2 linked regions of the Homo sapiens genome follow. The gene in region 2 interacts genetically with the main gene of each other region. Each region holds a gene or a part of one and is shown on either strand. Other genes may lie near its edges. The genes, in order: CDK1 and CKAP5.

Region 1 (3,500 bases), on a different chromosome or scaffold from region 2:
TCCTCCTGCCATGTCCCTCTAGTACCCTCTACCTTAACAACATAGCAGCTGGTAAAGAAAAAATACTTAAAGGCTTCAGTTCCATTTTCACATAGCATGCAATGAATTTGGAGCTGAGAGGCAATAAATTGATACTGCCACAGAGTAGATATCTTTTATTGAGTTATTTCTTGACTTTCACAAATACAGAAAATAATCTAGCAATCACACACATTCAAAAGCCATCAAAAACCACTATTCCACTTGCCTCATGTGTATATACTCTGATAGGTATTCCAAAAGCTCTGGCAAGGCCAAAATCAGCCAGTTTAATTGTTCCTTTGTCATCAATCAAGAGATTTTGAGGTTTTAAGTCTCTGTGAAGAACTCTTCTAGAGTGACAAAACACAATCCCCTGTAGGATTTGGTATAAATAACTCTGGAAAAAGCAAGTAAAAGTTAGAAACTTAAGCGAAGTACATGATTTTCTAAATAATCTGTTTCAAAGACAAAAAATTAGGACGCAGAGAAATAATTTAATTACTAGAGCTTTCAGGCCATTTTAGGCTAATAAGCATTTGTGGGTGGGAAGCCCATTTATATACAACATCACATTTGTATACCTAAGAAAAGAATCTTCACCTTATAGACATATCTATAGTAATGTGAACACATTTAGTCTTTAAACATTTTTGGTCCCCGATCCTTAAATTACAAATTGGTTTTCTACACAGAAGCCTCTTGATTTTTCTTCTATATACCGCTACCAACTCTATTTTGTATCTTCAATACAGTTGGCCTTTTCTATCTTTCATTTTTACATATTCATTTCCTTCTTGAAAAAATTAGATTCTAAAAGTGATGGCAAAGATATTATGATTATATATTTCAATGGATAAAATTATCATAAAATGCTGCTTAGTTCAGAGAAAAGTGCTTTACAAGACATTTGTTGCCAAAGACAATGTCATTGACATCTGAAGTAGCATGGATATTACAAAAACAAAGTACACAGAAAAATGACTTACAGTTTGAAATTGGAAAGTAATACAGATGCTCCATCTTAGAGGGACAAGTGGTGTTCAAAAAACAAAACAAAACGGATGATCCATCTGGTTAAACTCATTCTAAGCTGAAAATACCTTGTCGAAATGCATTGAACACACCTAACCTACCAAACGTAGCTAAGCGTAGCCCACCTTAATTGTGCTCAAAACACTTACATTAGCATATAGTTGGAAGTGTTGAATACCTCATTATTTATTGAATACTGTACTGAAAGTGAAAAAACAGAATGGTTGTATGGGTAAATGAAGTATGGTTTCTAGTGAATGTGCATCATTTCTGCTTCATTGTAAAACTGAAAAATTGTAAGTAAAACCATTGTTGCCTGTACATAAAACCAGTTAGAACAACTGGCTAGCCATTTGGAAAAAGATAAAGCAGAATCTGTATCCCAGTTTTTAAGTCAAAATAAATCTTAATACAGAATTTAAGACAAAAAAAGTATGTGTGGAAGACAGGACTTACTAAAACTACCAGAAAAATACTGACATGTATTATTCTAATACATTCGATCTTTGAGTGAGGAAGACTTAAGCAAGACATAAAAGCAGAAAGTCCAAAAGTCATGCAAGATTGTTAAAGAACGTATCCTAACGAAAATATAGGCGGTTTATAATAGCTAAATATGAAGTGTTAAATTGTCATGAAATATAAAATTAAAACAATCTTAATATGCCTTTTTCACATAGTTAACAGATTGATAAAACCAAGTTTTGGCAATGATGTACTAAAACAATAAGTATTACACACCATGAGTATTTAAGAGTAAATTGCTACAAGTTTTTTAGGGGGCAACCGGCAATATCTATCAAAATGTAAATAAACATCTTCAATCCATCATTCCCATTCTAAAAATTTATCCTATAAAGTTGCATACGAAGATAAATATCTATAAGGACATTCAGTGCAGTACTGTTAATAAGAGCAACAATAACCAAGTTGGAAAATAATTTAAATGTTCATCAATATGGAAGTGGTTTAATTATATCAAAAATGTAAATAGACATAGGTAGATCTACGTCTTGATAATGTTTTACACAAAAAAGGGAAAATATGTATATATACATATGCAAATAAGTCCACCTTGTGTAAAAAAAAAAATCTTTATATACATACAAAGTGAACATACATACAAGTGTAAGATTACAAATAAAACTAACAGCGCTACCTCTGCAGAGTGGTTTGGTAGAACTGGTGCAAGAATAAGACACTTTTATATACTTCAGTACTTAAAACTATACAATTTTATAATTTACCTGAAATATAATAAATGTCTACAATAAATTGACCAAAACATGTTCAAAACTGGAATAAAACACCTACAACCACCACTCTGCCCTAGGCTTTCATTACTTTGTTTTACATGTATCTGACAGCCAAAGAAAGACCAGACTACCCTAGCTTCCAACAATACCTACCAGTTCTATGTTATCTCAGGCACTAATTTTTACTTACTAGAAACACTATCTGGTAATAACATGGGTATCTCTAACCTGTATAAACTAACCATGAGGGAGAAAAATGAAATACTTTTTCTTATTCTAACACTTTTTCCAAGCATATTCCCACAAAATGCAGGGACTTCTATATATAGTCCCTTTATATCCACAGTGCATAAATATTAATAAAATTAGTTAAGCTTTTACCTTAACAAGTGAAGAATCCATGTACTGACCAGGAGGGATAGAATCCAAGTATTTCTTCAGATCCATGGAAAGAAACTCAAAGATGAGATATAACCTGGAATCCTGCATAAGCACATCCTGAAGACTGGGGAAAAAAAATATATGAGAGAAGAATCCAGCAAACATTTTTGACCTCTGTTTCACAAAATAAAACTCCTTCCATAATTTCAGTTGCTATAATAAAAACTGGGGAAGACGTAGTAGCTTCCCTAATGGAAGAGACTCAAAACTCAAATTTAAGAAAGGAATCTCAGGGCAACTATTTAAAATTAAGCCTTGTACAGGAGGTGCTTATTTATAAGGAGCCTGTATTCAAAAGAACATATCTAGGTTGGCTACTAATTGCTGAGAGCTTATTTTTTCACTGAAGTGAATTATACAAATAAATTTTAAAGTGGTATCTGACCTTAAAAGCTACTTCCAATCTCTAGCCCCAGCCAAGTACAATTAGATTTTAACTTGGACTGTTAGGAAGACAGGTCTCCAAAAACACCCAATGCAAATACTTTAAGGAAAAAAAATCTTTTTCATTTGACCTAGCTACTTTTCTTAAGACTCTAACTAAAGGGTCTTCAGGAACTAGAGCTCCCCAAGTAGGAGAGAGTTGACAAAGCTCTATGAAAACGGCTTTACTCCCATGGCCAATTTACCTTGCTATTCTAGGCCCAAATATTAATCTACATCACCCAGCTCCTCCAACTCTGTTCCTGCTTTAACAGCCTGTTCTCTTTTACATATGTGCGGCATTCTCAACTACCAAAAATAGGGTTC
Region 2 (4,032 bases):
TACCAAGGCGGTTTAATGGGGAAAGGACAGTCTATTCAACAAATGGTGCTGGGAAAACTGAATATCCACATGCAAAAAGAATGAAGTTGGACACCGTATATAAAAATAAAGTCAAAATAAAGACATAAATGTAAGACCTAAAACTATAAAATCTTTAGAACAAAATAGAGGGCAAAAGCATCATAAGCCTGGGGGCAGTGGCTCAGGTTTGTGATCCCAGGAATTTGGGAGGCGGAGGCAGGAGGATTCATTGAGCCTAGGAGTTTGAGACCTGCCTGGGCAACACAGTGAAACCCGTCTCTACAAAAATATTAAAAAATAAAAAATCAGCTGTGTGTGGTGGCACGTGCTTCTGGTCCCAGCTACTCAAAAGGCTGAGGTGGGAGGATTGCTTGAGCCTGGGAGGTATGCTGTGATTGTGCCATTGCACTCCAGCCTGGGGAACAGAGTGAGACCTTGCCTCAAAACAACCCAATTCAAAAATGGGCAAAGAACTTGAGTAGATATTTTTTTCCAAGAAGAACTATACAACTACAGATTGCCACCTGCACATGAAAAGATGCTCAAGGCCAGGCTTGGTGGCTCATGCCTGTAACCTCAGCACTTTGGGAGGCCAAGGCAGGAGGATCACTTGAGGCCAGGAGTTCAAGACTAGCTTGGGCAACACAGCGAGGCCCTCTATAAAAAATTTTTAAAAATAAGCTGGGTATGGTGGCAAGTCCCTGTCATCCTAGCTACTTGGGAGGCTGAGTGAGGAGGATCACTTGAGCCTGGGAGTTCCAGGTTGCAGTGAGCTATAATCGCACCACTGCCCTCCAGCTTGGACAACAGAGCAAGACCTTGTCTCTAAAAAATATAGAAAATAAAAACAAAGTAGTCAAATTCATAGAAACAGAAAGAAGGGGCTGGAAGAAGCTGAGAATGGGAGGATAGTTAATTGATTCATAGAGTTTCAGTGTTAAAACATGAAAAGCATTACGGCAATGGATTGTGGTGATGCTGCACAACATTATAAACATACTTAATATTAATGAACTGCACATTAAAAAGTTAAGACAGACCAGGCACGGTGGCTCACGCCTGTAATCTCAGCACTTTGGGAGGTCAAGGCGGGTGGATCACCTGAGGTCAGGAGTTCAAGACCAACCTGGCCAACATGGCAAATTCCCATCTCTACTAAAAATACAAAAATTAGCCTGGCATGGTGGCACGTGCCTGTAATTCCAGCTACTGGGGGGCTAAGGCAGGAGGATCACTTGAACCTGGGAGGCGGAGGTTGCAGTGAGCCAAGATTGCATCACTGCACTCCAGCCTGGGCAACAGAGCGAGACTCCATCTCAAAAAAAAAAAAAGTTAAGATAGTAAATTTTATGTTAAATTGACAAAACACACTTCTGTGCCTTCATCACCATTTTTATCTCTATTAAAGCTCCAAACAGCTGAATTTATTGCTGGAATATCCTATCTTCATTAACAGATTTTCTGCTGTATTTTTAATGTGGCCAATGAATTCATTTCTCAAACAAAATAATTTTAGAGGAACAACCACGAACCTGAGACTCAGACCCTTCCTTACTAACTTCTATTTTTAAATAATCTATTAACCTTAGCAGCAGGTGCCTTTTTTAGAGGTCCTGGTTTGGGTGCAGAAATGTCCTTTGTGTCCTTATCTCCTGCAGCCCCTGAAGCAGCAGTCCTTCCAGGCAGAGGTTTGAATTCCTTCTTATCAGCAGCTAGTCCAGCTTTCTTACCATGTATCAGTTCTACCTTTTCTGAACATTCTTTGATCTGGAGAATGAAAGTGAGATGAACATCATTAAGCCCAACTTTGAAACACAACCACTACGTTATTACATTTCTAAACCACAACTACACATAAGAATTCAGAGAAATGGCCAGGCAAGGTGGCTCACACCTATAATCCTAGCACTTTGGAAGGCCGAGATGGGTGGATCACTTGAGGTCAGAGGTTTGAGACCAGCCTGGCCAACATGGTGAAACCCCATCTCTACTAAAAATAAAAAAGTTTAGCCGGGCGTGGTGGCAGGCGCCTGTAATCCCAGCTACTTGGGAGGCTGAGGCACGAAAATCATTTGAACTCAGAAGGCAGAGGTTGCAGTAAGCTGAGATTGTGCCACTGCACTCCAGCCTGGGTGACAGAGTGAGATTCATTGCCAAAAAAAAAAAAAAAAAAAAAAAATTTTCAGAGAAAAAATTTCCCTTTCAACAAAAAAGATAAATTATCTACACTTTTTTGGCAGTAGATAGACATACGTAAGATATTAATCTTACATTTTATTTCTTTACAAATTAGAATTGTAATAAACTTAAAATGACCACATTGTTTATGGAAGACATTCACATATAAGAAGGTAATTTTCTGGACCTTAGAAATAAATTTATCTCACAGAACTGTTTTCACCTTCTCTACAGATTGGTCACTCAGCTTTTTTTCGGTTATAATTTGAAAGCTATTTCTACAATTATCACCATCATAGCCTGGAATGAAACTTAAATTCTCAAAAGCTAAGTTTTCAAACTCGGTCTGAACTATCAGTGGAGGATGAAATAAATTTCCTGAGGTGATATCAGCATTTTTTTCTTAATAAAACAACAGACAAAATTGAAGACAAAAAGTACCAGAGAGCATCCTCCAAAACTTGTTTCAATTATGCATTTCTTTCCTACTATAAATGGCAATTTAAAAAAAATCAAGAACTCCTCATCAAAACTACCAGTACTCTATAACTGTCAAGAGACAAAGCCATGATGCAAAGAGACAGGAATGTTGTCCAATTTCAGTCCAATCCATTACTAACCTACCTTATCAAGCTTGAGTTTGTCCACATCAGCTAGGAATGGGTTTACTGCTTTCTCGCCAACCACCTTCAAAGCAGTACCCAATGCTTCAAATGCGGCATCTCTGACTTCAGGAGCAGAATCATTGATGTGCTATAGTCCAGAAGTAAGCAAAATGATATTAATGCAAGGTATTTTAGGCATTACTCATTTTAATTCAGACTGATGGTTGCTAGATAAAGAATTTGCTTTTTACAATTTACTGGAACTAAGTATAGCTTTCCTTGTGCCAATTGACAGTTACTCTTTCAAAAATTCTTTTTGGGCCAGGCACAGTGGTTCATGCCTGTAATCCCAGCACTTTGGGAGGCCAAGTTCGAGACCAGTCTGGCAAACATGGTGAAACCCCATCTCTACTAAAATACAAAAACTAGCCGGGCGTGGTGGCACATGCCTATAATCCCAGCTACTCAGGAGGCTGAGGCAGGAGAATTGCTTGAGCCTAGGAGGCAGAGGCTGCAGTGAGCCAAGATTGTGTCACTGCACTCCAGCCTGGGCAACAGAGCTAAACTCCATCTCAAACAAAACAAAAACAACAACAACAAAAAAAAAAAAACAAAAATTTTTCGGGTTAAGGAAACCCTTGGTAATCCATTTAGCAAATAAGTATTTCCTTTTCCTCTTACCCTCTATCTAAAATAACTCACTCCCAAATGATCTTCAAATACTCCACATTTGATGCCTATGCTTGGCCAGATTCAGCTGAACACCAGTATATGGGACAAGTAAGAAACAACATGTTTAACAGTTAATGGAATCATAACACTAACTTGTGCTTTCTTTCAAGAAGAGGAACACAGGAGAATTTGGATTCAGTTTCCAAGCTGCAAAGGCTCTGCTCCTCAAAAGATCATAACCTCTATAGTCTGAAAGTCAAGTAGTCACTGTACATAATTTGCAGGAAAAGAATCTTGCCTAGGTATAAAATATTCCCCCAACTTCAAAGAGAGTCTGTACCTTAAGTAGTGCAGCACAAAAGGGCTTTAGCAAGCTCTTTGGCAGGGTAGAAGCAGTGCAGTGGCGGAAACTTCTTGCAATAAAAAGAGATGTCTGCTGCTTGATGGTTGGATTTTTATTATCCATTACTGCTAAAACATCCTCACTGATGTTCTGTAGTGTGGTCTTTAGAAAGAAAATGTGGTTAATGAGCTTTTTTCAATTGTAAAGAACAAT

The links.
Region 1: changes in CKAP5 (region 2) and CDK1 together harm fitness less than expected from each alone (positive genetic interaction), as found in Homo sapiens cells (one large-scale study listed by BioGRID).

The regions. Positions count from the first base shown.
Region 1 is NC_000010.11:60,784,978-60,788,477, reverse strand, and holds part of CDK1 (cyclin-dependent kinase 1), read right to left. Parts: intron 2,815-3,500; coding exon 2,691-2,814; coding exon of another isoform or gene 2,679-2,690; exon of another isoform or gene 1,409-2,678; intron 419-1,408; coding exon 248-418; intron 1-247. UniProt on the Homo sapiens protein: Plays a key role in the control of the eukaryotic cell cycle by modulating the centrosome cycle as well as mitotic onset; promotes G2-M transition via association with multiple interphase cyclins.
Region 2 is NC_000011.10:46,793,989-46,798,020, forward strand, and holds part of CKAP5 (cytoskeleton-associated protein 5), read right to left. Parts: intron 3,982-4,032; coding exon 3,817-3,981; intron 2,953-3,816; coding exon 2,824-2,952; intron 1,789-2,823; coding exon 1,606-1,788; intron 1-1,605. UniProt on the Homo sapiens protein: Binds to the plus end of microtubules and regulates microtubule dynamics and microtubule organization. Acts as a processive microtubule polymerase. Promotes cytoplasmic microtubule nucleation and elongation. Plays a major role in organizing spindle poles.